Linked DNA regions of Homo sapiens. The protein of the gene in region 4 interacts with the protein of the main gene of each other region in a pairwise test. Each region holds a gene or a part of one and is shown on either strand. Other genes may lie near its edges. The genes, in order: ARFIP1, SEMA3G, NFU1 and DESI2.

The links.
Region 1: the proteins of DESI2 (region 4) and ARFIP1 interact in binary tests that used the Homo sapiens proteins (3 or more experiments, as listed by UniProt).
Region 2: the proteins of DESI2 (region 4) and SEMA3G interact in binary tests that used the Homo sapiens proteins (3 or more experiments, as listed by UniProt).
Region 3: the proteins of DESI2 (region 4) and NFU1 interact in binary tests that used the Homo sapiens proteins (3 or more experiments, as listed by UniProt).

What each region holds. Positions count from the first base shown.
Region 1 is NC_000004.12:152,775,141-152,782,975, reverse strand, and holds the start of ARFIP1 (arfaptin-1), read right to left. Parts: upstream 3,023-7,835; 5' UTR 2,750-3,022; intron 1-2,749. UniProt on the Homo sapiens protein: Plays a role in controlling biogenesis of secretory granules at the trans-Golgi network. Mechanistically, binds ARF-GTP at the neck of a growing secretory granule precursor and forms a protective scaffold.
Region 2 is NC_000003.12:52,435,082-52,442,103, forward strand, and holds part of SEMA3G (semaphorin-3G precursor), read right to left. Parts: intron 6,829-7,022; coding exon 6,738-6,828; intron 6,610-6,737; coding exon 6,493-6,609; intron 6,329-6,492; coding exon 6,183-6,328; intron 5,968-6,182; coding exon 5,853-5,967; intron 5,743-5,852; coding exon 5,673-5,742; intron 5,441-5,672; coding exon 5,296-5,440; intron 5,018-5,295; coding exon 4,786-5,017; intron 4,691-4,785; coding exon 4,599-4,690; intron 3,881-4,598; coding exon 3,839-3,880; intron 3,119-3,838; coding exon 2,890-3,118; intron 2,586-2,889; coding exon 2,446-2,585; intron 993-2,445; coding exon 522-992; 3' UTR 1-521. UniProt on the Homo sapiens protein: Has chemorepulsive activities for sympathetic axons. Ligand of NRP2.
Region 3 is NC_000002.12:69,427,418-69,434,439, forward strand, and holds part of NFU1 (NFU1 iron-sulfur cluster scaffold homolog, mitochondrial), read right to left. Parts: intron 4,589-7,022; coding exon 4,485-4,588; intron 1-4,484. UniProt on the Homo sapiens protein: Iron-sulfur cluster scaffold protein which can assemble [4Fe-4S] clusters and deliver them to target proteins.
Region 4 is NC_000001.11:244,649,088-244,656,131, reverse strand, and holds the start of DESI2 (deubiquitinase DESI2), read right to left. Parts: upstream 3,007-7,044; 5' UTR 2,819-3,006; coding exon 2,777-2,818; intron 2,220-2,776; exon of another isoform or gene 2,200-2,219; coding exon of another isoform or gene 2,107-2,199; intron 1-2,106. UniProt on the Homo sapiens protein: Has deubiquitinating activity towards 'Lys-48'- and 'Lys-63'-linked polyubiquitin chains. Deubiquitinates 'Lys-48'-linked polyubiquitination of RPS7 leading to its stabilization.

The DNA.
Region 1 (7,835 bases), on a different chromosome or scaffold from region 4:
TAGACAGAGGAAAACTTATTCTGTGAGCAGAAGAAACTGGATACTCATGATAGACTATGATGAGCTGTATAGGTCTCTTCAAGTTAACATTCTAAAAAAAAAAGTATCAGACCTTTAGAACTGCAACCCTCAATCAACAAATAATTCACAACCAAATCAGTAAGTTCAAATATGTACTCTAAAACTTACATTAAGCTTGGAAGGATACTAACGTATTCACAAGAGAGAAACAATCATTAAAATATCTCATACAGAATGGAGGGAAAGGGGATGTCAAGATAAGCAACAACATTCCAAAGGACCACACCACTGAAACATCTTGTTTGTTTTTCATAGCAAAGCCAAATCAAATCCTAAGGTACATGCCTCAAGCAAAAAAAATTAAGAAAATGAAAGCAAAATACAACTAGAATTTAAATTTTTTACTCTGAACTGTGCCTAGTTGGTTGGTGATATTTAATACATATTAAAGATAGGCACATCAGTTTGTAAATCCACTGGATCTCCAGAGCATGGACCACAAACAGCTATCCCTAAGAAGAAACCTCAAAACCACAAATCAGGAAATAAAGTGGGCAGCCTCATTTCCTTCTGTAAGTCTAGGAAGGAATTTAGAAACACTAATGTTTTAAAGGAGAGATTTCAATATCAAACTAGAAGAATCCCTGCATTCTCCTTTCCTTGGTCCCAAAGCAAACAATTTACAGTTTGGGAAAACACACACACACACACACACACACACACACACACACCCCTACCTGTTTTCACTAACTTCAACAAGACACTGCCTAAGTGGTGGTTTTAATCTATCAAGAAGCTATATATCTCCTTTGCACAGTTTGGGAAAGCACACACACATACACACCTGTTTTCACTAACTTCAACAAGATACTGCCTAAGTGGAAAACACACACACACATACACACACAAAACCTGTTTTCACTAACTTCAACAAGACACTGCCTAAGTGGTGGTTTTAATCTATCAAGAGGCTGTATATCTCCTTTGAGAATTTGATAAAAACAATGGACACTTTCCCCAGGGGGGAAAAAAATTCACTCAAACAAAACTGCATATAATTTCAGGGGTGGGAATGAGGAAGACCCCTGAAAGTTGTTGACCCTTAGGCCATGAACCCCAAGTCATCATCCAGGATTAAGGCAAATCATAATCCAAGGAAAACCAGTTTATCAATTTGGAAAGAAACTAAAGTAACTGAGGCAGGGATTTAATCCACAAAATACATTAGAAATCTTTTCTCTTTTCTCAGATAAAAGTGTGTTAGACTTGGTAGTTGGGAGAAGACGTGGGTCATGCTAAGCAAGGAAAACAAAACAAAAAACACCACAGGACAAACGAAAGAAAAGCAGAATTAAGGCAGCAGTAAAATATAGTAATCTGTAGCCGCTCTGAGAGAACAGCAATGAAATGGCCAATTCGGCCGGGCGCGGTGGCTCACGCCTGTAATCCCAACACTTTGGGAGGCCGAGGAGGGAGGATCATTTGAGGTCAGGAGTTTGAGACCAGCCTGGCCAACACGGTGAAACCCCGTCTCTACTAAAAATACAAAAATTAGCTAGGCGGTAGTGGCGCCTACCTGTAAACCCAGCTACTCAGAAGGCTGAGACAGGAGAAAAGCTTGAGCCTGGGAGGTGGACGTTGCGGTGAGCCGAGATCGTGCCAATGCACTCCAGCCTGGGCGACAGAGTGAGACTCTGTCTCAAAAAAAAAAAAAAAAAAAGAAAAAAGAAAAGGCCAATTCCTGAAGCCTTAACAGACGGCTGACTTAAGGTAACCATTTCTGGTGCACATTTCTATGCCAATTAAGTTAATTAAATGGCAAACATGAACACACCCTTACAGGTGAAAGTATGAAAGCAAAAGTTTATGCGAAGTTCTGGATCTCTTCCGGCTTTTCCTTATCAAATAATAATGTAGTTAGATGAATTTTATACTTTAGGAGAAAACAGGGTAGGGGCGGGGGACAGAAATCCTAAGAGTGGCCAAAGGATCTGCAGGAAGTATAAAGTGTAAACTTTTTGAAATCAAAGGGCTCAAGAGGAAGGTAAGAACAAAACAAAGGAAGTAATAACAAAATAAAGTAAAAGGGAAAAACGTCTAGCATCTAAAAACTGTTTTTAAAAAATTATTTCCTTTTCCTAGACACGTAAACAGTAGTAACTTGGCAAACAGGAACGGAGCAGAAGACAATCGAACAACTCCCTTTCCAAAACTCCAGCATTCCTTAGTCAGGCTTGGGACATTTCACAGGCAAGACTCCTCTCTGCACCACTGCCAGATGAATCTCTCAGAGGGACTGTCACTATCTCCCTTCCTCCCACTGCGGGAGAGAGGAAGCTGGGGATGCAGGGAGAAGAGGGGAGAAATGAGGGTTGGACAGCAAGCCTGAAGGTGGCCCACTCCGACACTTTGTCAAGAAAGGTCCGGATTCTGGATCCTGCAACTCCTTTTCCCACCCAATGTATGCAAAGCCAAGAGAGTGCCTCCCTGCAAGGGCCGGTCCTACACCTTCACTCGACTGTTTCGGGGGCACACTCAGAGGGACAGAAGGAATGAAGGACAGAAGAAACCAAAGGCATAACACTTGGGCAGATACGGCACAGACTAAGGAGAGGCGTGCCCTGTGAAAGTTCGGAACGGTGAACCCGTAGGCAACGTGCCCGCCCCACCAGCCACCTCAAACCATCTTTCCCCCGCCTTTTCCCAGGCGAGCCAGCTCCGCCCTCACCTTTCTTAGGGTAACTCGGTAGCTTCTAAGTCGAGGCTTATCCTTTCCGCCGCTCTCTGGAATCGCCTCAACCCTGGCAAAAACTGAGCGGAAACGCGACCCGGACCTTTTCCTTCTTCCCCTTCCCCCACGCACCTCGGCTGCTCGGGGGCGGGGAGCAACTGCAGCTGTCACAAATTCACACTGACCAACCGCCGAGGACAGTCGGACCGGCGACCTCTCAACCCAGCCTCCAGAACCAGAACCAAGAGCAGCGAAGCCGGAAGTGAGGAGACCGGAAGTAGCGTTGTCCCTGGCCCTGGACGGCCTCTCTCTCCCTCAATCCGGCCTTGCCCGGCCACGTCTCGGTGGTGTCAGCGCACCTCCCACGAGGATCCCTCCGCCCTTCTCCGGGAGGCGGGCTACGCCCCTCCCTCTGCTGCCCTAGCAACCACATCCGGGACTCCGGCGGTGTCGTTGCCCGGGTAATTTTCTGGCAGCGACCTAATGCGCGCGGGGCCAGAGGCACCGGCTAGAGCTGGGAGCTTGCGGAAGGGCGCCCCTGCCTGGTCTTGAGAGGTCGAAGGTCTCCAGGAGGCCTCCGCCTCCCTCTTTTTCATTCACACACCCTAGCCTCACACGTTAGGAGGACCCCCCCAACAGACCGTGAGCTGGTGCCGGGAGGGTGGAGGTAGATGTACCTCACCTCCACGCTACCACAGAAGAGCGAAAGCTGCTTTCTCAGCCACCGGAGAGCACGAAGAAGGTTATTCCAGTCCCGGGGGGAAGGTGGGGGTGGTAGGGAGAATGCGAAGATAAGGCAGCAGACGGAATGCGGGCGCTGCCTCGCGCTGCCCCCGTGCCTGGGGAGCCCTCTCCCTTCAGAAAGGCTAGACCCCCGGGCCCGGCATCCCTGAGCTCTTACTTGCTCTGGATTTGTGATCGCTTTTTGCTTTTTGCTCGCTCTCTCACAGTAGATTCCTTGATACTTTTCTTTCCGGCTCCTCTTTCTTTTTCCGGATGACCGAGCTCTGCTTTCTTTGCTTGCCCCATTACTTCTTAAATAGATCATTGTTCTGTCACGGAAACTGCTGAACAATTCGCTCTCTCAGAGCCCTTCGTAGTTTCCTAAACGGGGCCCCAACCTGCACTACTCTCCCCATCCCCAGAGCTCAGTGGTGCGAAAGCGTGGCTCCCCCGTGGCGCTAGATAGACCTGAAGTTCATTTACACACTGTACCATACAGTTGGTCCATCACAGAATATCCCTTCGAACTGCTGGACTGCTTTTCCTTTGACAGCTTTGAATGCTCATTTTTACTCCCATTTCACTTGTAGAAATGCGAAGGGTAACTGTGCACACGGCGAGATTTACCCTTCTTTAGACCGTACTTCTCAGCTGCCTTTACTTGTCACAGTAGCTGACAAGATATTTTTAATGACTAATGCCCAAAGGCAGAGCTCTACCTCTACAGATTTCCAGGGAGTTTCAGTGTAGTGAAATATCCCTGGCAGGTATCTTCCCCAGATCTGTGAATAGTAAACACCTATGGCACCATAAATGTTTCCAATGTATAACAATATTGATTGAGCTCTCTAGGATACCACCTCTTAAAAAAATAGTACTGAAATTCCAAAACATAAATCTCTTATCTTAAGTGGTTCTGTCTTAAACAAAAGAAAGGAGCAAATATATATGCCAACCCACTCAAACTGTAACTTCAATTGTTATAGCTTACTGTGGATTTTTCTGTACAAAGCCATCTTGTTGGTTTGGAGACCATTAGTCTTCTCAATTATAAGAAAATAATCCCAATCTAAATTAATTACTGCTGTAATTGTGTAGGAACTGAGCAACTACAGAACTTGCAGCTAAGTACAAGTGTTGTTCCTAGGGTTTCAGAAGGGTGACTTGGAGGAAGTGTACGGTAGGACTCAGCGGTGCTTGAATGATGTGGACAATGAATACTAAATTGTTTTTGCTGGCTGTTATCTTAAAGATTCCTGCTAGCTGTCTCTTGAGTTTGGAGATGCTTAGCTTGACTAAAGTTAGTCTAACTATTAGACTGTCAGACTCTGAAGTGTTTCTTATTTTGGAAAGGTGAAGACTTGCTTTAGTTTGTTCATAGTTTCCTTGGCAGCTGCTGATGGTTTTGATGGAGATTCAGATGGATTTGGAACTAATGCTAACTTCTGCTTGGTGAAGATGCTAACCAAGTTAGATACTCTTCAGTGAATTCTGGTACTGTGTACGATTAATCCTCATCCACAGTATTACGCTGTGCAAGGCTATATATACACAGGATTAATCTTTCCATGATTTCCACTGCCCTGAAGGAAATTAGAATGTAGTCTGGCTCCAAGAAAACACTAGAAACTACTTCAGCTGGTGATGGAAAATAGTGGAATTCTATACATCCTTTGAGACAATGGAAGCAGCAAACCAGCGTTCTTTGGATTGGGGAATATTTTTGGTACTAACTGAAAAACATCATTTTAAGCCTGGCCCTGCTTAGAGGAGACTTGTTTTCTCTTCCCTCTCTCCCTCTCTTCCTTTTTTCCCTCCTTCCTCTTTTTCTTTCCTCCTTTCCTTCTTGTCTCCCTCCCTTCTCCTTCCTTCCTTCTTCCTCTTTTTCTTTCCTCCTTCCCTCCCTCCCTCCCTTCCTTCCTTTTTTCCTTTCTCCCCTCCTTCCTTCCTTTTTTTCTTCCTTCCTTCCTCCCTCCCTCCCTTCTTTTCTTCCTTTCTTCCTTTGCCCTAAAACTTGGGGGACCCTGCCTGCTCATTTTGTTTAGAATAGAAGATTACTACTTTTCTCTGAATTGTCATTTATTTTTAGAGAGGTAAGAAAAAAGGGAATAGCTGCCTTCCATATATACTTATGACATGGAGATTATCTACTCATTTAACTTTGCACTGCTATTGGCTGTTTATTTGGCTTTTGAAAAATCAGGTGCTATTTATTCATTGGGCTTGTGGGGAACTCTAGTAGCCCTGAATGGCATTTGTGGCATACTCAATGAAGTCTAATTCTTTATCCTGGCATTAAAGGCTTACCAAGATCTGGCCTCAATCTTGCAAATGAGCACTCTCTTATATACCTGAAGGAAAAGTGCTAATTTAGCCAACTAATAGAGATAGGTATAAATACCAATATAGACATAGATATGAAACTTTAGTTGCAAAGAAATGTTTAATATGCTTCAAAGTGCATATTTCCCTCTTCCATGCTTTATTGTCTATTCTTATCAGCAGAAATGTTTTCCTATTTTTCCTTACCTGTGATGTACCTATCCATCCTTTACAGTTGAGTTCAGATGCTACTTCTGTCATGAACCCATTATTTATCCTCCCTGTGAGAATTCATTTTTCCCTGTTTTTGGATCTTACAGCCTTTGATTTGAGCCCCCATTTCAGTCTGCTTTATACTACTGTCTTGCATGTTTTCCCATGATAAATAAGATGGTTTTTGGGAAACTGAACTTTGGACTTACTTGATTCTCTTATAACACCAGGAAATTGGCCAATTCTAGTTGAGTTATGGAAATATGTTGTCTGCTGCATACCAGGCAAGTTCAAGAATACCAGCAACTCCTGCTACTTAGGGTAATGGTACAAGTAGGATTAAGTGGATATAGTTGCTATCTATCTGTAGAAGACAATGAGTGAGTGCTGTCTTAAGTTTGGAAAGTAGTTGATTCTCTGCAGAGGGGTATAAACTACTGATGAAAGGAGAGTGACTCATTACTCCTAGAGATTCTGAATGGGAAGAATGCCAGCTTTATGTTTTCTGATACTGATTTTTTTTTTAATAACTTGGTGCAAAAGTAGAACATTATTCTAAGATGACTGTTGTGGAAGAAAAAAAAGGTAGAACATTAGAGTTGTAAAAATGTTTTTAACTATAAAGAGGAAAAAACTGAACTTATTTATAATTCATTTACCTAGAGAGAACATTCAACATTTTGGTCAATGTATTTTTTTTCTTTATATCTATGTAGATATATATTTCTTCATTTATTTAACAAATTGCTACTGACACCCTATGGTTTGCTGGAAGTGAGCTGTGTAGGAATAACCATGAGCCTCTGCTCTGATGTAATTTTTAGTGTATGTTGTATTTGTTGACATATAATTTTATATTTTGCTTTTTTCACTTAATGTATCATGGAATTTTTTCATATCATTAAATATTCTCTTTGTGTGGCACAATAGTATTTCAGCATGTAGATATTTTGTAATTTATTGAATGAATCCTTTTTGTTGCATATTTTCAATTTTGTCTGTAATTATATAGCAATGCAGGGAATAGTCCCGTGTAGCAGGTGGAATTCTAAGATGAACTCCAGTGACACTTACCTTGTATAATTCCCTCTCCCTGTGAACATGATGGGATATTACTTCCATGATTATGTTATGTTACTTGCAAGGGAATTTTGGAGATATAATTAAGGTTGCTAATCAATTGACTCTGAATTAATCAAAAGGGCAATATTCTAGGTAGACCTAACCTAATCAAGTGAGCACTTTAAGAACAGAGAGTTTTCTCCTGCTTGTGGCAGTAGAGGAAGTCAGAGAGATTCAAAGTGTGAAAGAGACTCTACAGGAGGAATGTTCTCCATTGCTGAAATGACAATTTCCCACAGACAAGGACCTGAGGGAAGCCTCTAGAAGCTGAGAGTAGTCCCTGCCAACAGCCAACCAAAAAAACTAGGGACCATAGTCCTACAACAGCAAGGAACTGAATTCTGCAAACAATCTGATTGCGCCTGGAAGCAAATTCTTCCCCAGAGCCTCCAGATAAGAGCCCAGCTTCTGACCAACATCTTGATTTCTACCTTGTGAGACCCTAAACAGAGGACCCAGTTGAGCCCACCTGGACTTAAGATCTACAGAACTGTGAGATAATAAATGGGTGTTGTTTTAAGGCATTGAGTTTGTGGTAATTTGTTGCATTAGCAGTAGAAAACTAATACATTTGTAAGAAATTATTTTTACATCTATAATTATTCTTTTGGGATAAAATCCTTGATATAGGCCGGGCATGGTGGCTCACACCTGTAATCCCAGCACTTTGGGAGGCCAAGGTGAACGGATCACGAAGTCAGAA
Region 2 (7,022 bases), on a different chromosome or scaffold from region 4:
CCACCTTCCCAACACCTCTGTGTTCCCTCCCCAAGTCGGTCAGGTAGGCTCTTCTTACGGGGTGCTAGCTTAGAGGCCATTTCCACCCTCTGGCTCCCTGCAGGCCCCCTACCGGGATACCCCCTAGACGCACCCACACACCCACTCTGAGGGTCACTCAGAATGGCCATTGTTCTGTAGGCTGGGAAAGAACCACCCAACCCTCTTGCCTCTGGGCACACCCGGAAATGTGTTGCGGAAGCCAGGCCATCTCTGAGAACAAATGGCAGATCCCTTGGGGCTGCCAGCAGCCAGAGGGTGCTGGCTCCAGCTGGGTCTAAGAGCACAGAGAAGGGCAGGGAACAGGCTTCAAGAACCCAGCCCCTCCATTAGACCCCAGTAGCGGTGTGGGGGCAGAGACACCTGTCTCTAAGAGGCAAACAGACATCCTGACCCCTCTGCCCTAGCTGGGTGGGTGGGAGATGCTGGGGGCTGCTAGTGGGCCCCCCAGCCCATCCTGACCACCCCTCCTCTGCCCCCTTCTACGTGGCCTCCACCTCCCGGGGCGTCCGATTGTGCTCGGCATGCACCCGGCTCTTCATCTTCTTGCCTAGCTCCAGCCCTGCCCAGCTCTTGCCCCTGGCCTGCTTGCCCCGGCTCCGGCTCCGGAAGCAGCCTGAGCATTCCGTGGTGCCCCTGCACCACACGCGCTCACAGTACTCATCCACCCGGGGCAGGTTGGCGAAGCCAATGAGCTGCAGGATGTCCTTGTACCAGGCCTTGGGTGGGGTGGAAGCCAGGCCTCCCCGGGCTGGGGGCTCCTCTGGCTTTGGCTCCGGAGGGAACAGGTTGTCCAGCTGTGAGGCCACAATCACCACCAGAGCCAGGCGGACCACAGTCTGGGAGAAGCCATGCTCCAGAGTGGTGCAGGTGTAGGTGCCCGCATCGAAACGGCTAAGCCTGCGGAACAGCAGCCCCCGCTCCGTGTGCAAGACTCGCTCGTCCGTCTTCACCTGCCATGCGGGCGGGAGGGCGTGAGTAGGGTGCAAGGTGGGAGTTTACCATCGGCTTCTCTGCCCCAGCTTTTCTGCCATCCTTGGGGCCCAGTGCCTGGGCACTTCTTGCCCTATTCTCCCCTTCCCAGGAGGGGACCAGCAGCGTGGCAGTCTGGGCCTCCTCTAGACCACCAGCTAATTCAGGTGGGGCCTCACCTTCCCATAGCCCAGGAAGGGGCCTTCTCAAGGATTTGACTGGCTGGTTTCTCCCTTAGTCAGAGGACTCCAATCTTGGCCTCAGAGGGCCCTGGCACACATTCCCAAGGAACATAGGGGCTAAGATGTTATCCCCTTAGCCCTTCTGGAGGTACCATCCCATCTACAGGCTTTTCTCAAGGGAGGGGCTGTGCCCCCTGGCCCAGAACTGGGCTTCAGAAACTCCCTATGCTACACACATACAATGTGCGTGTGCCCACGCACACATGCACGTGCACGCACACACACACAGAGACACACACAGGGCCTTCCCATCCTGGTCTGAACCGTTCATTCCCCCAACGGTGCGAGCTGACAGCCCCAGCCCAGGGTGGGCTGATCGCCCATCACAGCGTGGGAAGTGGGAGTGCCGCCCTGATCCCAGCCCGCCTCTGGCCTGGACCCTGTGTGGGTTTTAGTCTGCACATCTGTGTGTTGGGGGTGGATTGCTTGAGCCATTAGCTAGTGTTGTGAAACACCATCTTGTTGCTCCCCTCCTCCCCTGGGGAATCTTCTCAGTGCCCAGCCCAACAGCTGGCCCAAGGCTGGCCTCCCCCAGTTCCCAGGCTGGAGGGAGAGCCCCTCCTGTAATCAATCCACTCCTGCCCCTCCCCTTCCCTGCCCCGGCCAATGCCCATCCTCAGGCCCCAGACTTAAACCATCCCTGGGGTTGATAGACCTTTCCGGATGGGGGAGGAGAGGCCCTGAGCAGACAGCTGGACTCCAGGGAGGAAGTGTGGGGCCAGGCTTTGAGGGTGGAGGGCAAGGACCAGTGGTTAGGGACCCAGAAGGTTCTCTTCTGTTGTGTGTGTGTAGCATAGGGAGGTTCTGAAGCCTAGTCCTGGGCCCAGGGCACAGCCCCCTCCCCTGCCTGGGGCAGAAGAGAACCAAGAACCCCTGGAGAAGAGAATCCTTCAAAGATGAGCCATGTGTGTAAACATGGGAGACTTACTGGCCTGCCCAGACCCTCTTCTCTCTCTTCCATCACCCACCCCTCAGACTGGGGGAGTTCCAGCCACATCTGGCCTGGGCATTCCCAAAAGGCAAAAATAGGGCACCTCCTTCTAGGCACCCCAGGAGCCTAATACAAACTTTTTTTAGGTTAATCTTGGCAGATTCCCCCCAGAACCCCTTTCTGGGGCTCAGGTCTTGGGGTTCAGGATGGGAGGTGACCTCAGGACACACAGAGGCTAGAGGCAGGGGTCTCCTCACTCACCTGGTCAGGCCCCTCATCCCCTGGCCTCTGCAAGAGCCAGCGCACAGCAGCCTGGGGAGACTTGGGCAGGCACTCCAGGAAGGTGCTATTGTGCTCCGTGCCGTAGACCATGGTGGCTGCCACAAGTCCCACTGCCTCTTCTGGAGAGAGGCAGAGGTTGGCTCAGCTTGGGAACTATGGGACCCAGATCCCAGTGCCACCACCTGACACCACAGCTCAGGAGCCCCACTAGTATGACAAGAACTTAGGCATGCGTGGATCCCCAAGCCAGCCACTGTGTCCAAAGACCCTGCTTCCATGCACTAGCAGGAGCTACACAGAGAGGGAAACTGAGGACTATCCGTCATGACAAGACCAATCTGAGAATGCACTTCGCAGGGGTGGAGCCGGGCCACAGGGGTGAGTTCCAGCCCAGTCTGGGCCCTCCCACCTGCCACCACTCACCTTCCTGGCTCTGGCCCAGGCACTGCAGGGCAGGGTTGCCGTGCCGGATGTCCTGCCGGCGGAACCGGCGCTTGCCAAGGCTGGGGCGGTAGTGGGTACAGGAGGCACCATCCCAGGCACAGTATGGGTCCCGGGCCAGGCAGCACTCTGCACAGGCAGTGCCGTAAGTCTCACATTGGTGCAGCCGCAGCTGGGCCACACCCAGCCGAGAGCCCACGTATAGCATTTGCTGGGGAGGGACAGAAGCAGAGCCTGAGGTGAGCCCAGGCTTCGCCCACACGCAGCCAGGCTCTCAGCCCCTCAGCTTCCTGAGACCCCTGCCACTTGCAGGAAGTCTTCCAGAACCTCTTGGATTCATTCAAAAAACAAAAAGTGTTTATCACCCATCTGCTGCATACCAGATTCTGTGCCAGGACACAGAAGGGATGGAGGAGAACCAAGACCTGGGATGTTTTCTCTAAGGGGCTTCTCCAGGCCCTCCCAGGTGCTGACCTTTGCCCTCTATCCCAGGGGCCTTTATCCTGAGTTGTCCCTGACCTTAGAGGTGCACCTTGCTTTAAGCAACCCTTGCACGAAAGTTAGGATTTACACAAAGATACACTGGAGCAGATAAATATGGGGAGACGGGTTTTGCCACTTGGCAAATATAGTAGGCCTCTAAAAAGTGGCCTTGTTGGACTTAACATCTGGATTTTGTGTTTTCAGGCACACTTTTGCCTCCCTTAGGAACTGGCCTTTGTGACTATCCCCTTATCTGGACATGGCCCCACTTACTCGGTGCCTCCAGTGCCCACTGGCCACTTGTTGCAGGGGCGAATCAGGCCTGCCTCAGCACAGCTTTCCCCAGACTACAGTGGAGCTCGAGGAGGCTGCGGAGCAGGGGCAGAGGAGGAGGCTGCGGAGCAGGGGCAGAAGGGGGGTCCAAGAGGAGGGTGGCAGCTGTTCTTACCCTTTTGACAGAGATCTCCATTTCGGTGATAGGTGTTGGCACCTGGGGAAGGAGAAGGGTCTCAGTGTGGGTCGGGTGGACCAAGACCTGCCCCTGCACCCCTGCTTTCAGTCTCCTCCAACCCTGGGGTGGGAACCACCTAGCTCCCAGGCTGGGTCTTGCACTCCCTGGCAGCTAAGGCTAGACAGTCTTTCCCAGACGATGGGTTACAAGAAAGGCCCCCTGGTCATGGCTGGCCTCCAAGCAGGAGGCTTGACTGAAAGCACAGAGCTAGAGTGTCCCCTCTCTCAGCCTGTTCCCCAGCAATGAGGCAGCTGTCCCAAATTACCCAGCTCAGGTCCAGGAGGCACAACAGGCCCCCAAACACAGATGACCCCCTTCCTGAGTCTCTAGAGGGGCCAAGAGAACATCTAGGGGCCTTGGGATCTCAACCATCTCCTCCTTGCAACTTGAGTCCTACAGGGGTTTGCAGAAGGTTGCTTCCCTTGACCATCCCTCCCAGCACCCCAGGCACTTTCAGCTCACAGGCTGTAGCTCTGGGCCTCCAGTCATTCATAAGTGGCTGCGAGGCCTCTGCCACAGCGGAGGTGCGGGGTGGAGGGGGGGCATCTCTTTCTGCATCCCCTCCCCAGCATCCTGCCAGCTGCAAATTCAGTAAAGACAGGCTGGCTCCCTACTGGGCTTGCTCCTGCATCCCTGTAGCCAGGCTCAGACCCAGAGATGGGGCTTGGAGGGACCCTTCCATCAGCCCCTTGCTTACCTTAAACACCTGGAGCTCCTCCAGAACCACTTCCTCAGGTTCAGCTGAGCCCCCTGCCTGGAGAGCGATGACTTTGAGCACAGACCCTGAGTCTGGGGCCAGGGAGGAGGGGTCAGCGGGACAGGAGGGGACAGCCAGAGACCCCACACCCCTCTCCAGCCTGGCCACCCTGGCTCAGCTGTCCTACCAGTCCCCAGGAAAATGACATCGTAGGTCCCATCCTCTGCCTCCACGCGGTCCACCACGATCTGGTGTAGCTGCTGGGCCAGGTGGGTCTTGACAAGGACAGGGCGGCCATGTCGAGGCCGCACAGGCCAGAACATGAGGGGGTGGGCTCGGGCAAACTGCAGCACCTCATCTGGGTAGTCCTTGGTGCTGCCAAAAGGCCGTCCTGGCTGTGCGGTCATCTTGCTGGGGCACTGTGGGCAGCAGGGAAGGGAGTGCCTGAAGTATCCTGAGACAGCACACACCCTCCACCGCCAGTCTGTTTCCACCCCAACCAGGGGGACCTCTCTCACTGCAGGAGGGCTCTCCTCTTCCACTACACCCACCCCACCCCACCCAGGCCCTCTGGAGCCCAGGCTTGGCCAACGTCCGCTGCCGTGGGGGTGCATGGGGACATGAGGCCACTCCAAGGAGCCCTTCCCCACATCTGCTCAGGCCTCGCTTCCCTGGCCTGGCCCCAGCAGATACTCACCACGCCAGGGCGAGGGAAGGGCACCTTGCCCCCATAGGGCCCCCACTGGTGCTGAGGCCCATCTCGGTGGGCAAAGGGCCCGTTGAAAACCTCCCAGATGTCTGCCATGTGGTACACACAGACGGCGAAGCCCTGGAACACGGCACTGCCGGGGCACATGGGACAGTCAGGCCAGAGTGGCCATCAAGGACAAGAAGGGAACAGCCTGGTTCCATGGGCAGGACAGAGGGTGACAGTGCCTGCAGCAAGCAGAGACTCCGAAAAGCAAAGACCCCAAGGCAAAGGCAAAGAGAGAGTCAGAGAGTACAGTCACAGGTCACCGAATCAGGGACAAAGACAGGGGCCCATCGCAAGGCCGGGGTGCTGGGTGTGCCCACCTGACGGTGCTGAACAGCGCGTACACCTCGAGGCTCTTCCCGGCCTTGGGCCACAGCAGGAACACATCCTCTGGGGTAGAGAAAGGAGTATGAGTGTCATGGCCACCGCCAATGCCCTGACTCACCAGCTCTCAGCCCTCCCCACTCCCGAGCCCTAGGCCTGCTTGGCCAGGCCCTCACCTAGCTGGTCAAAGTGGGTCTCGGCACCACCAGGGCCGGGCACCGAGCAGACCAGCCTGGCCTTGAGGAAAGTGCTCCATTTGTTCACCAGCACCCGCTGGCCCCCAGCATCATTCTGCAGGATAAGGGGCCAGAGTCACGCTTGGGCCCCACGAGGATGGGTCCCACCATCCACTCTTCTACCCTCACCCACTCGGGGAGAGGTATGCATGTCAGCTTTGCATCCTTGCCTCAGTTTCCCTACTGCTGGCCAGGGGTGGGGGGAGAAAGGTCTGGGAATGGGAGGGTGTAGCAGGGACTTGAACCTCACCACCCCTTCCCAGCTCTTACCACGCAGACGCGGCCCACGCGGCTGACAGTGACATGGTTCGAGCCACCATCGGGCGAGGGGACCGTCTCCGAGAAGAAGAAGTACACCTTGTCATTGTCCTGGTCAGAGTTCTCAGGGATCCGGGCGGCCATCACAAACCGGGGGTCTGGAAGGGTGACAGGGTCATGCTGGGTGGAGGGGCCCCACAGGGGAGGATGGGAGTAGAACCCAGTGGGGAGAGGAATGGGGCAGGGGACTCCCACTGGAGGCTGGTGTCCTAGCTGGGAAGGTAGCCTCTTCACCCCTGCCAGTTCCAGGGGCAGGCCTCACCGTGCAAGAGACTCTGGTCAGAGTCGGAACGCAGAGCTGGCCGAGGACCTCCACTTCGGAAGATCATGGCCTCTCGCCCCAGGAAGTCAGCAGTGAGACCCGTGTACAGCTCCCCGTCTGGGGTGGGGGTTGGGGAACAGAGTCAGGGGAGGAGGCCCAGGCCCAGCAGCCGGGTCCCTCCCTTCCCAGTGACATAGGCCAGCTGCCACCCTCCCTGTTCTCACCCTGGCCTGGGCATCACCCACCTATGAAGGTGCTGGCAAAGGGACGGCTGGGCTCGTGAGGGCACCGCCCCCGGCCACTTTCCACACTGCCAGGCTCCAGGTGGAGCACATGCTAGTGGGAGGGAGAGAGGGAGGGAGGGGCGTCACCTGGGAGAGAAGCACCAGCAGCCCACACCCAAGCAGGAGCCCTCGCGTGCGGCCAGAGAGCGGGGGTGGGCGGAAGGCGTCCTCATCCAGGGCCCCTCTAATGGGGTCAGCTCCCCAACACAAAGGCGCCTTTCAGGCCCCTGCCCCTCTGTCCCTACC
Region 3 (7,022 bases), on a different chromosome or scaffold from region 4:
ACGCCTGTAATCTCAGCACTTTGGGAGGTAAAGGCAGGTGGATCACAAGGTCAGGAGTTTGAAACCAGCCTAGCCAACATGGTGAAAACCCATCTCTACTATAAACACAAACGTCAGCCAGGCGTGGTAGTGTGCGTCCGTAGTCCCAGCTACTTGGGAGGCTGAGGCAGGAGAATCACTTGAACATGGGAGGCGGAGCTTGCAGTGAGCCAAGAATGTGCCACTGCACTCCAGCCTGGGTGACAGAGTGACACTCAGTCTCAAAAAAAAAAAAAAAAAAAAGGCCAGGTGTGGTGGCTCACACCTGTAATCCCAGCACTTTGGAAGGCCGAGGTGGGCAGATCACCTGAGGTCAGGAGTTCAGGACCAGCCTGGCCAACATGGTGAAACCCCGTCTCTACAGGGGTTTTGTAGAGGTAGGGTTATTTTGTAGAGGTATTTGTAAAAATACAAAAATTAGCCAGGCGTGGTAGTGCGCTCCTGTAATCCCAGCTACTTAGGAGGCTGAGGCAGGACAATCACTTGAACCTGGGAGGTGGAGGCTGCAGTGAACCAAGATTGCGCCATTACAGTCCAGCCTGGGCAACAGAGCAAGACTCTGTCTCAAAAAGAAAAAAGAAAAAAGAAAATGAACCTTCTGAGTAAAAAGAAATCCTCCATCTTACAGCAGTATATTTAAATAGACTGACAATACTATATAACAATTAAAATTTATTCAGTGCCTGGCCGGGCGCAGTGGGTTATGCCTATAATCCCCAGCACTTTGGGAGGCCAAGGCAGGCGGATCACCTGAGGTCAGGAGTTCGAGAACAGCCTGGTCAACATGGTAAAACCCTGTGTCTACTAAAAATACAAAAATTAGCCAGGTGTGGTGATGTGCGCCTGTAATCCCAGCTACCTAGAAGGCTGATGCAGGAGAATTGCTTGAACCCAGGAGAGGGAGGTTGCAGTGAGCCAAGATCCAGCCACCACGCACTCCAGCCTGCGAGACATAGTGAGACTCTGTCTCAAAAAAAAAAAAATTATTCAGTGCCTATCATGCACTGGGCAGGGTGCTAAGCACTTTACATGTATTATATCATTTAATCCTTACATACTTTCAATGAGTACTTTCAATACTTACTATTTTTATCTTATTTTATAATAAGGAGACTAAAGGTCACTCAGCTACTAAGTGACAGAGCCAGGATTCAAAGCTGGACAATTTTCTAGGTGCTGACTTTCTTAGCCACCGTACATATTGCTAATCCTTATCTAACATTGCCAGGCATAATAGGAAAATACATTTAAGATCAATCTTCCTGTCCTAATTTTCACATCACCTATTTTAGGAGAGAGAATAGAATATCAAAAAGCAACAGTTTTATTTTAAATTTGAAAGAGTTTAAATTTGGCAAAACATATGGTTGGTACAAAAATGCTTTTCTTAGTCATTACAGAAAAAGTTCTAATTTGACAACTGAGAGCCATTTTTGTACTTTGCCATGCAGTTCCAGCTAGCTGAAGTTAAACCATTTCATGGATAAAGAAAAAAATTGAAAGTGAACTCCCATACATTTTGTTTAAATCCTTTTTCTAATTAGACAACCAGACAATTCCTAAAAAATGAAAAAATAGCCGCAATGTCCAAGTACTTCATTTAAAATATGTATATTTCTAGTAAGACATTCTTCTGAAAATCTGTGTTATAAGGGAATGATTTTTCAATGACACATTAAAGAAAGGGCTGCCAACACTTTCTGTAAATAATCTTCTAACTCTGGCTCTGAACCAATCATTTCTTGCAGCTTGTATTAATAATTTATTGCTAACCAAAATCTGCACACAGTACTCTACCAATATTTGAAAAATTAAATCTGGCTTCAACTGGGTGCATCAGCTCACACCTATAATCCCAGCACTTTGGGAGGCCAAGGCAGGAGGATCACTTGAGGGCAGAAGTTCGAGACCAGCCTGGGCAACAGAGATCCTGTCTCTACAAAAAAATACAAAAATTGGTCAGCTGTGGTGGCATGTGCCTATAATTCCAGCTACATAGGAGGCTAAGGCAAGAGGACTGCTTGAGCCCAGGCAGTAGAAAATGCAGTGAGCCAAGACAAAAAAAAAAAATCTGGCTTTATTCTACTCAATCAATTTGAGAAAAACTACACCTGCAGAAAGCAAAATTTTTAGAAATCCTTGAGGGTAAAAACTACAAATGCAAAATAAAAAGTCACTTAAGAGCATATACTCTATACTATCTAAAGTAGAAAGTATGAAAATGAATGACATCATCACAGAACTTTTTACTGTTGACAATAAATAAAGCTATTACTAAAAAACTAATTCAGGCTGGGCACGGTGGCTCACGCCTATAATCCCAGCACTTTGGGAGGCTGAGCCAGGCAGGTTACTTGAGCTCTGGAGTTCAAGACCAGCCTAGGTAATGTAGTGAAACCTCGTCTCTACAAAAAATACGAAAATTAGCTGGGTGTGTTGGTACGCACCTGTAGTACCAGCTACTTGGGAGACTGAGGTGGGAGGATGGCTGGAGCCCAGGAGGCGGAGGTTACAGTGAGCCAAGATCACATCACTGCACTTTAGCCTGGGCAACATAGTGAGACCCTGCCTCAAAAACAAACAAAAAAAAACACCTAATTTGAATAGGTACTTAACAAAATCATTACAATTATAATCTCAATTGGGTTTAATTTTGTATTTCAAAAATGACTCCCAGGTCCATCATCCAGAAAGATGCTCATGAAAATGTCATGAGACTTACAACAGGAAACAGGACAGAATGATAAAAAATATTTCTTCCTTTTTTTTTTTTTGAGACAGTGTCTCACTCTGCTGCCCAGGCTGAAGTGCAGTGGCATGATTACAGCTCACTGCAGCCTCAACCTCCTAGGCTCAAGTGATTCTCCCACCTCAGCCTCCTGAGTAGCTGGGACTACAGGCATGCACCACCAAGCCCAGATAATTTTTGTATTTTTTTGTAAAGACAGGGTTTGACCATGTTGCTGAGGCTGGTCTTGAACTTCTTGGGCTCAAGGGATCTGCCCGCCTCAGCCTCTCAAAGTGTTGGGATTATAGGCATGAGCCACCATGCCAGCCTATTTTTTCCTATTATGCTTGGTACTAATAGGTACCTAAGGAGGTAGATGTAAACTCCCCCAAAATACAGATTAGTGGTGCTTAAAGTCAATATCAATGACTAAAATTAATGGGTTTCCTATTTGAAAAGCCTATATGACCACATATTTCAGTCCTACAAAGTTTAAAAGTCCAATTAAAGTGGTTTAATCAGCTGAGTTACTCAGTATTTACAATATTTATATCTAAGCTATTCTGTGATCCAAGCAGTCAGGCAAGCCTGCAGGAAAGTGTTCCTCTTCTGGCCCCTGGCTACAGAAGGGGTAAGGTCTACCCTGATTTAACTCACGCCCTTAGCCAGAATCAGCCAGAGTATGGCCACAGGAATGTGTTCAAGCTAGCAATGGAAAGGAGAGGCTGAATTTATATGCTTACAGCTCCATAACACATATAGGTATACATTTACATACATACACACATGCAGACACACATACCCTCTCCCCTTAAACTTCCCTAACTCTACATTACAGTCATCACACTTCAAATTATTTTAAATCATATCTATTTCCCAAATTAAAGAAAATTAAAGTATATATCTCGTTAACAATCAAGATTATTAACAAAACCATAGTAATTAATTTTGACAAAAAAGCTTTTCTTTCTTTTTTTTGAATGTAGTTTTTTACTACATTCAAAATCCTGTGTTCTAAGGTCTGGATGAAAGCCAGAAATTTACTAATTTTAAGGGTATTCTTATCCAAAAAAAGGACAGCAGTAGCTTTAAATACATAGAATTCTTTGAAACACAATCCCCATTTGAAACTTCTTTTTGAGACAGGGTCCCACTTTGTCACCCAGGCTGGAGCACAGTGGTGTGATCACGGCTCACTGCAAGCTTGAACTCCTGGGCTAAAGGGATTCTCCCACCTCAGCCTCCCAAGCAGCTGGGACTACACGTGTGCGCCACCATGCCCAGCTAATTTTTTGTATTTTTTGTAGAGACAGGGTTTTGCTGTGTTGCCCAGGCTGGTCTCAAACTCCTGGGCTCAAGCGATCAACCTGCCTCAGCCTCTCAAAGTACTGGGATTACAGGCATGAGCCACCACACCCAGTCAGATTTTAACTTCTACAGTATTTTCATTTTGGAAATCATTTATTGAGCAACTCTTGTGTTGCAGGGGATATGTTATACAACATACTGAGATTTCATAGATCTATTGGACAATATCCTTGCAAATACATTTTCTACTTAGAAGCCTATAAGAAAAATATAGCTTTTTTTCCTATATTCTATCTATAGGCTTCTAAATAGAAAATATACAAATTCTCATCTTTTATGATCCACAAAATCCTAGCACAGTTCCATCAGTTTCTGAAACACAACTGCTATAAAAGAGGTGAAATTTTACCTGGGTGATAAAAGGCTGCAGGTAGTGGGAAAAGTGGTCTTTGTACAAACTGATGCAGAGGCTGTTTCTTAATGGTGTATGGATTCTTCAACATATGACAGAACCTGCATTTAAAAGCACATAATGAATGACATTTTAAGAGCTCTAATCTTTTAAAGTTGGTTTCTACTTCTCATGTATAAAAAAGACCTATGTAAAATTTAAACATAACCCGCAATAGAAATAATTAGAGAACTGACTTTTCATCTTCCATCTACATTATTTCCACTTACTTAGGCAAGCAATATCTACAAACAATTCAAAATCAGGTAGAGCTCAAATGGAAATTCCTACCCTTGATAACCGGGTGTGCACAGGATAATATAACATTGAGGTATAAGAAACAGAATTGGGCTGGGTGAGGTGGCTCACGCCTGTAATCCCAGCATTTTGGGAGGCCGAGGCAGGTGGATCACGTGAGGTTGGGAGTTCAAGACCAGCCTGACCAACATGGAGAAACCCCATCTCTACTAAAAATACAAAATTAGCCGGGCATGGTGGCACATGCCTGTAATCCCAGCTACTCAGGAGGCTGAGGCAGGAGAATTGCTTGAACCCAGGAGGCAGAGGTTGCAGTGAGCCAACATCATGCCATTGCACTCCAGCCTGGGCAACAAGAGTGAAACTCTACCTCAAAAAAAAAAAGAAACAGAATTGTATCTACATTAGTAATTTATAACCCATAGTCCCAGACTCTTGGTTATACAGGAAGGAAGCAAATAACTATAAGCTTTTTTATTTTTTTAAAAAATTTAGAATTAGGCAATAGAGTCACATGGTTCAAAACTGGTAAGGGAAAAAAGCATAAATAGTGAAAGCCTCCCTCCTTTCCTGTCCCTTACGTTTCCCTCTCTCAAGATAACCTATATTACCTGTTTTGAAAAGTATTTCAATACTTCAAAAAATCTAAAAGAAAGTATACTATTGGGCCAGGGGTGGTGGCTCACGCCTGTAATGCCAGCACTTTGGGAGGCCAAGGCAGGTGGATCACCTGAGGTCAGGAGTTCGAGACGAGCCTGCCCAACATGGTGCAACTCCATCTCTACTAAAAATACAAAAAATAGCTGGGAGTGGTGGTGGGCGCCTGTAATCCCAGCTACTCGGGAGGCTGAGGCAGAGGAATCGCTTGAACCCAGGAGGCGTAGGTTGCAGTGAGCCGAGATCGTGCCACTGCACTCCAGCCTGGCCCAAAGAGCAAGACTCCATCTCCAAAAAAAAAAAAAAAAAAAGTATACGACTGTCCTTTTTGTTTTTGAGATGGAGTCTCACTGTTGTTGGCCCAGGCTGGAGTGCAATGGCACAATCTCGGCTCACTGCAACCTCCATCTCCCAGGTGCCAGCAATTCTGCTGCCTCAGCCTCCCGAGTAGCTGAGATTACAGGTGCCCGCCACCATGCCTGGCTAATTTTTGTACTTTTTAGTAGAGACAGGGTTTCACCATGTTGGCCAGGATGGTCTCGAACTCTTGACCTCAGGTGATCCTCCCGTATCGGCCTCCCAAAGTGCTGAGATTACAGGCATGAGACACCACACCTGGCCCGTCTTTTTTTTTTGAGACTGAGTCTCACTTTGTCGCCCACGCTGGAGTGCAGTGATGCGATCCCAGCTTACTGCAACCTCCACCTCCTGGGTTCAAGTGATTCTCTTGCCTCAGCCTCCCTAGTAGCTGGGATTACAGGTGTACACCATCACACCCGGCTAATTTTTATATTTTTAGTAGAGACAGGGTTTCACCACGTTGGCCAGGCTGATCTCCAACTCCTGACCTAAAGTGATCCACCTGCCTTGGCCTCCCAAAATGCTGGGATTACACAGCCAACGATCTTGATCACGCTTTTCGTGTTTTGTTTTGAGACAGGGTCTTGTTCTGTCACCCATGCTGGAGTACAATGGTGTGATCAGGGCTCACTGCAGCCTCAACATCCTAGGCTCAAGTGATTCTCCCACCTCAGCCTCCCAAGTAGGTGACACTACAGCTGTATGCCACCATGCCCAGCTAGTTTTTTTTTTTTTTTTTACTTCTGGTAGAGATGGATTACCACTATGTTGCTCAGGCTGATCTCCAGCTCCTGGCTCAAGTAATCCTCCCACTTTGGCCTCCCAAAGTGCTGGGATTATAGGCGTGAGCCACCATGCCCTGCCTTTTATATGCTTTTTGGATGGAAACATATTAACCCAGTGTTGTAACTTCACTTCACTTTTTTTTTTCTTTTTTTTTTTGTGAGACGGAGTCTTGCTCTGTCGCCCAGGATGGAGTGCAGTGGTGCGATCTTGGCTCACTGCAACCTCCGCCTCCTGGGTTCAAGCAATTCTCCGCCTCAGCCTCCCAAGTAGCTGGGATTATAGATGCCCACCACCATGCCCGGCTAATTTTTGTATTTTTAGTAGAGACAGGGTTTCACCATCTTGGCCAGGCTGGTCTTGAACTCCTGACCTCATGATCCACTAGCCTCGGCCTCCCAAAGTGCTGGGATTACAGGCGTGAGCCACAGCGCCAGG
Region 4 (7,044 bases):
ATACAGACAACAGCAACCCTCATCCAAAGCATCTCTGATGAATAGGAAGAATTACCAAAGATAAAAGGAATTTACCCTTGGCATCAAACAAAAATATTTCAAAAACCAAAACTGACTTGAGAAAAATTAGTATAACAGACCAAAATTTGTATCTCAATCTAAACAACTGATCACACTGTTCCCCTCCATGAAAACCTTAAATGGTTCTGCTGGCTCAAGGAGCCCCCTCAGCCCTTCACCCAAGCCCACAACACATCTGACTAAAGAAGTTCTAATCAAACTTTCAGTTTTGTCTCCTTTCATTTATGCTCTACTCTAGTTATACTGGACCAGCTGATAGTTCCCAAATCCCACCTGCGCTTTCCCTATTCCTGCCATTTTGTTCACGTCAATTGTTCTCTGTCCTTGTGGATGCTACCCATTCTTCAAGTTTCATACCTTTGATTTTTCAGCATTCCCTGATCCTACAACTACATAGTCTCCTCCTTTGCATCCTTGTCTGCTCTTATCAAAACCATGCTATTCTGTCTTGAATTGTTGCCACTGTTGTGTATCTCCTCTACAATACTCTAAATTCCTTAAAGAAGAAAGGACAGTTAACTCATCCTTGTGGCTTCTACCAGGTCAAAAATAATAAGTAATGGTAGGTTGCTGAATTAGTGACATAAAACACTCAAAGCCCTCAAAAGAACATATAAGACCAAGTTTATTAAAAGTCTAATAATTCAACTATTTATCATTCCGATAAACATTCATATGCTTCATCTCCTGTTCACAGGCAAAAGCAATATAAAGACATAAGTGCAGGAATTAGTAGAGAAGATAGTGAATCAGATTTTGGTCTACAAATTCTAGATTGTATTTTTAGTTGTTTAGGCAGATCACTTACTCTCTCCCCTGTCTGCTGCTTCTCTAACTACCTATTTTACAAACTTGATGTGAAGAATAAGATCTCGCTCATTAGTCAATATTTTAACATCGTTCAGAACAGTCCTCCCTTCGAAAATACTGAATACCATCTCTAGCTTTTCCCAATCGACCACAATTTGCAGATTTTCCTGTATCACAGAATGCCTCAAGTGTAAAGAAGCCCACTATATGCCAAAACATGCATTTTCGTTTTCATATAAAAGGTAAAACTCTCTTCCTCTATTCTCACAAATTCTTTTAGGCTCTGAAACCATGGCTTCTGGCCACTGTATACTCCTAATTTAAATACGGGTTTGTTTAATAATCTAGGAGAAAAGGCACACTGTGATCTCAAGAGCAGAATATATTCTGAAAGACAGTAATAGCCCTCATGAATAAAAAACAAACCAAATTCAGATTAGGGGGATGTGCACAGAGAAAGTAAAAGGGCAGTTAAGAGTCTTGAAAGATAAAGGTGTTCAGCTGAACACAAAAAGTTTAAATCCAGAGAATTATTTCTCAACCAGTGACACAGGCCACAGAACTTACAAAGTGCCATGGTTTTCTAGGATCTTTTGTTTGGCTTATTCTCCTCTTCAACTTTTTCTGTCCTGTTCCACTTTTCTCAGCATGTTAACTCATCTCCTTTCATCTCCAGGCTCACATCAGAATTCAACAGAGGACTCATCTCAAGTGGCAGGCAGTTCCTACACCCTTCTGACACAATTCCCAGATATGGCATGAGAAATCCCACTCTACCCAAGATATAATAACACTGTAAATTTAGAAACTTATAAATAATACAAGGGAATACAAAGTTTAGAACTGTATAAGACTCTTGGCCTGTAGTATTTCTGCTCTCCTGCATCTTTAAGCCAACAAAAATAACGACGGGCAATTTTTCATTTGTCAGTCAACTTACAAGGAATTTTAAGCACTGCAGTCAGAGGTACTAATCCAGTCTACAGAACAAAAACCCATTCTACAGAACAAAGCAAGCAAACACACCCAAACATGCATCTAACTGCAACGACAATTCTCTACCGGGTGCTTTTTTCTGGGGGCATTTCACTGCAAAAATCAGGCAAACCAGTTCTTGGACTCGATTCTGCGTGCTTGCCATACTCCAAAGTTAGATGATACAATAAACAACTTCTTCCCTTCCCTCTCCCGTGGTCACGTCACCTGTTGCATCACCTGGAAAGTGGTCTTCAGAGTGTAGGAAAGGAGCACCACCAGGATCTCTAAATAATTCAGCTGGGCTATTTTCTTGAGAAATGTTAGCCTCATTCATATTTTAACGAGGTTGCCTTTAACACACAAGGAAAGGGTGTGTTGGCTCCTGTTCACCTTTGAAGAGATTCTAGCACAGGCACCCGAAAGCTGTGACCTTCTGGACTTAGAGGGGCTTGGGAGTTTCTGAAGACGTAGCCATGGAGAGAGACGGACAGTTCGGCAGAAGCAGAGGAGCTGGGAGCGCAGGCGGTCGGGACGGGGGTCCCGGGGCAGCCCCGGGGGCCGGCAAGTGGGGTTGGAAACGCAACGGAAGCTTTGCCGAAAGGACACTGCACGTCGGCCAAGGGGTCGGGCCCAGAGCCGGGGTCGGGTCCAAGCTGAGCGGATGGGAGAGGTTCAAGCCCACCCGAGCTTTGGCCAAAACCCTCGGGCTGACTGGGTTCACCGGAGCGTCGACGAGTGCGAGGATTAAAAAATAACAATACTCCCTCCTTCACCCCCGGCTTCCCCCGAGAACTAGGCTGGAGGCGGAGACGCCAGGCAGGAAGCGCCTGGGGCCGGGGTCCGAGCCCCACGGGCGAGAGGAAGCCGGCCTGGGCCAGGGCTCGGGGCCGCCAGGGGCCGCACTCACCATGTCGTACACGTTGAGCACCACTAACTGGTTAGCCCCCATCCTCCTCCCCGCGGCCGCCGCCTCGTCCTCAAGCCGCTCCGTCTCCGCGGGGCCGGAGGCCGCTCTCACCCCCGCGGGCGCTTCAGGGGGCCTGAGCCGGGCACTAAGCGTACAGCCCGGCCCGCGGCAGCCGGGGCGGAAGCATCGGGCAGCCGAGCCGCTCCCGGGCGCCGCCGACAGGAGCGTCTGTGCGGACGGGGCCGGACCGTTGGCGGCCCGCTCCGGATGAGGCACCTCCCCTAGGCGGCAGACACGTGGGGAAAGGCGGGGCTTGAGCAAGGGGCGGGCGCCAGGCGCCCCGGGGGCGGGGCCGGCCCGGCGCCAGGACTGAGCCCGCCTGCGCTCTGGTTCTCGGCCGGCGCACCTCGGGACCTAAAATGGCGGCAACTCCGGCGCCTCCGCGTCCTGGAGGAACGGGGACCCAGGAAGACTACAGTTCCCAGCATGCAGTGAGGATTCCCCCTTGCTACTATAAGTGCAGAGGCGGAGTCTCAACAGCCCTTCGACTACAACTCCCTGCATGCCGCGGGGGCCCCGGTCCTACCAGACCAGGCCTCCCCGGGAGACTACAACTCCCAGCATGCAGTGCTTTAGAGCTGCGGCAGATCCCTTGCCGCCCGCGGGCGGTGAAATCTCCTACCTTCATTCACCCTCTCATCTCAGGTGCTGCTGCTGTTAGTAGTTCATGTTGCGTTGAGCTCGATGAAGCCAGCGAAATGTGGCAAAAGACCAGAGTGATGACCCTAAGTTTTCCAAATGCTTCCTCACCTTTTATTTGGCAAGGGGAGTGGTGGGGAAATAGAGGAAGACGAGTTACTGGTGTGGGATGAGGTGTAACGTGCATCCAATTAATCCTCAATGTGGAATTTACATTTTGTGAAACTATCCTGCTGAGATGGGAAGGGTACAGTAACCGTAGCTTAGCACAATCCTGGGACGTAGTATGCAGCTCTGCATTAATTCAACAAATGTTTGTTATGTGCTTCCTATGTGCCAGGCAGTGTTGTAGGCCCTCGGGAATGCCGTGATAAACAGGAACAGGGACATACAAAATATCACTGGTATGTGCTTTGCAGAAAATTTAAGTAAGGTGAAGTCATTCTTAAATTGGCTGCACGGGGAAGATCGCTGTAATGAGTTTTAAGCTGAAATGTGAATGACAAAGCCAGCCCCGCAGATATGAGGGGGAGGAGTATTTCAGTCAAAGGGAACAAATGCAAAGATCTGAAGCATGAAGGAGTTTTCTGTATTCAAGGAAACAAAAGATCACTCTTGCTGGGACACAGTAGGCAAGGAGTCGACGGTACTAGATGAGCTGGGCAGGTAGGCAGAGGCCAGATCCCGGAAGGATTTTAAAATTCATAACAGGGGTTGTATTTTAAACGAAGCCATAAGTTTGGACCAGGGAGTGAAATGAGTGTGCGTGTGTTTAAAAATGATTACTTGGGTTGCTGTGTGGAAAATGGATTTCAGAGAGGCAAAGGAGGTGGAAATAGGGAGATGAGTGTGGCAGATTGTGAAAATAGCCACAAATTATTTCCAGTCTCCCAAATTATACTCTTTGGTGGTGTCTACCCCCACTGACTGCACTGGACTGTGACTTGCTGTGGACGTGGGACATTAACATCGTGCAAGCAGAGGCTTAAAAAACACTTGTGAGTTGGGGCTTGCCCTCTTGCTGAACTTGGGAGTCCTGTGACCACCATTTTAGGAATGAGTGTGGGCTAGCCTGATGGATGATGAGGGACACGTGGTCAAGTCACGGCCCACATCCAGCTGACAACCAACCAACTGCGAACATGTGAAGCTCTCCCGGACTATCCTTCCCTGGCCACAACCACATGGATCGGACGAACTGACCAGCCAACCCACAGAATGTGAGAAATAATGTTTTAAGTCACAAAGTTTTGGGGGTGGTTATGTGGCAAAAGTTAATCAAGTCCACCAATTGGATGCTGTTCCAGAAGTGCATGCCAGCAAGTGGCTTCGTTGTGGCTGATAGTGGTGGAGACCGAAATAATTAGAGTTTAAATATTTTGGAGTAAAGTCTGTGGAACTTGCTAATGGGTTAGATGTTGAGTTGGTTAGGGAGAGAGGATTCGAGAATAACTTCTAGATTTTTGACTTGGGGAACTGAGTGGATAGTCCTGGCACTTCTAAGATGTGAAACATTTTGGGGAGGAGCAGGCTGGGGGTAGGGAAATCAAGAGCTATGGTTTGGTCATGCTAAGTTTGAGATGCCTTTTAGACATCCATGACTGCCAAGTAGTAGACATTTGAATAAACTGGAGTCATGGCCATTTATAGACTTGGGGCTTGGTTGGATGACCTAGGAATATGTGTAGCTAAAAAGAAGTGGGCCAAGAACAAAGCTCTAGGACCCTTCACCATGTAGAGGTCAAGTAAAGTATGAAGAGGAAGCACGGAGGCAGGAGGAAAATCAGAAAGAACATGATAACATTGATGTCAAGACTATTGGATTCAGCAATATAGAAATCACTGGTAGCTTTGATGTGAGCGGTCTCTGGGAGGAGTGAGATTTAAATAACTGCTTTAACAGTTTGAGAAGCAAATGTAAGGTGACAAAAGGGAGACAACTTAACTTGGGGGCAACAGCTGGATAAGGCGGTGTGGTCAATGGAGGGCATTTTGAAGATGGGAGATGCTGAGGCATACTTGCATGTAAAGGGAGAAAAATTGATATAGGAGAGGGAAAGATTTGCAAGGGCAAAGAAGGGAGAGGGATCCAGGACACAAGTTAATGGTTGCTGTTTAGTAGGGGGGATGCTTCATCTGTAGTGATGGCATAGAAGGCAGATGCAGGTGCACAGTTACGGCATAGAAGGCACGGAGACGGGTAGGCAGGTTAGAAATACGGGAGTGTAGGAAATGAGGGTGTTTATTCCTGATTTACTTTTACTTTCTCAGTGAATTATGAGGCAAGAATGTCTTCAAAGAGTAAGACGTGAGGAGAGGGGCATAGGGAGTTTGGAGAGACAGAAGGTGATGTAAAATAGAGGAAATAAGTAAACTTGGAAAATATGGTTTGTCAGGTAGTGTTGGGGGACAGTAAATGCTGTGCACATCATTACTTGACTGTCCTCTGGAAGGTTGTTGACAAAGTTCTAAAACCTGTTTTTGGTGCATCAGCTGCCTTGCTTCTCTTTCCTCCCATGGTGTTCCTCCCCACCTTAAGCAATTACAAACTACGTAATCACATCTGCTAAGCCCTTTTTCCTGTGAAAGGTGGGGAAAAGGCACTGTGCATTTGCACCTTATTTAGTCCTGGCTGCAGTCCCCATAGATTCACTTTAACTCTTACTGTACACACTCCCTTTGCCCTTTGTGATCTCATCCACTCTCAGCTGTAACTGTTGCATGTATACTGAAGAGCCGCATGTCTCCATCTTCGGTGCTCTTCTCTCTCCAGAGTGCTAGGCCAGTATAACCTACAGCCTCTTGGACTTCTCTAACAGGATGTGTTGGTTTCCCTTGGCTGCAAATTGCCACAAACTTAGTGGTTTAAAATAACACAAACTTATTTTCTTATAGTTCTAGAGATCAGAAGTCCAAAATGGGTCTCCCTGGGTTAACATCAAGGGCTGTGTTCCTTCTGGAGACTCTAGGGGACAATCTGCTTCCTTGCTTTCCCAGGTTCTAGAGGCTGCCCTCATTCCTTGGCTCATGGCTCATGGCCCCGTCACTCCAGTGCCCACCCCCCACCCCACACGCCATTTCCATCATCATGTCTTCTCTGACTCCCTTATTTCTCCTTCTTACTTATGAAGAGCCTTGTGATTAGATTGGGCCCACCTGATAACTGAGGAGTCTCCCTCCATCTCAAGATCCTTAATCACACCTGCTAAGTCCTTTCTTCCTATGAAAGGCAACAGCCACAGATTCTGGAGATTAGGATGTGAACATCTCCCGGGGGGGCTGGGATTCTGCCCTACCACACAGGATGGCCCATGGTTACTTTGAATTTATCAGGTACAAAATAGAATTCATCATCTAATGATGGAATGAGTTATGCTGCTCATGTAATTCAGGTATTGATCCATCAATAATGAATCATCCATCCTTCATTCATTGAACAAGTGTTAAATGAGTACCTTTGATGTGTCAGCCTCTGCGTCACTAATTCACCTGTGATAGAACAGACATGATCCTACTCTCATGAAGCTTACAATCCAGTGAAACACAGAGAAGAATATATATATTCTTAC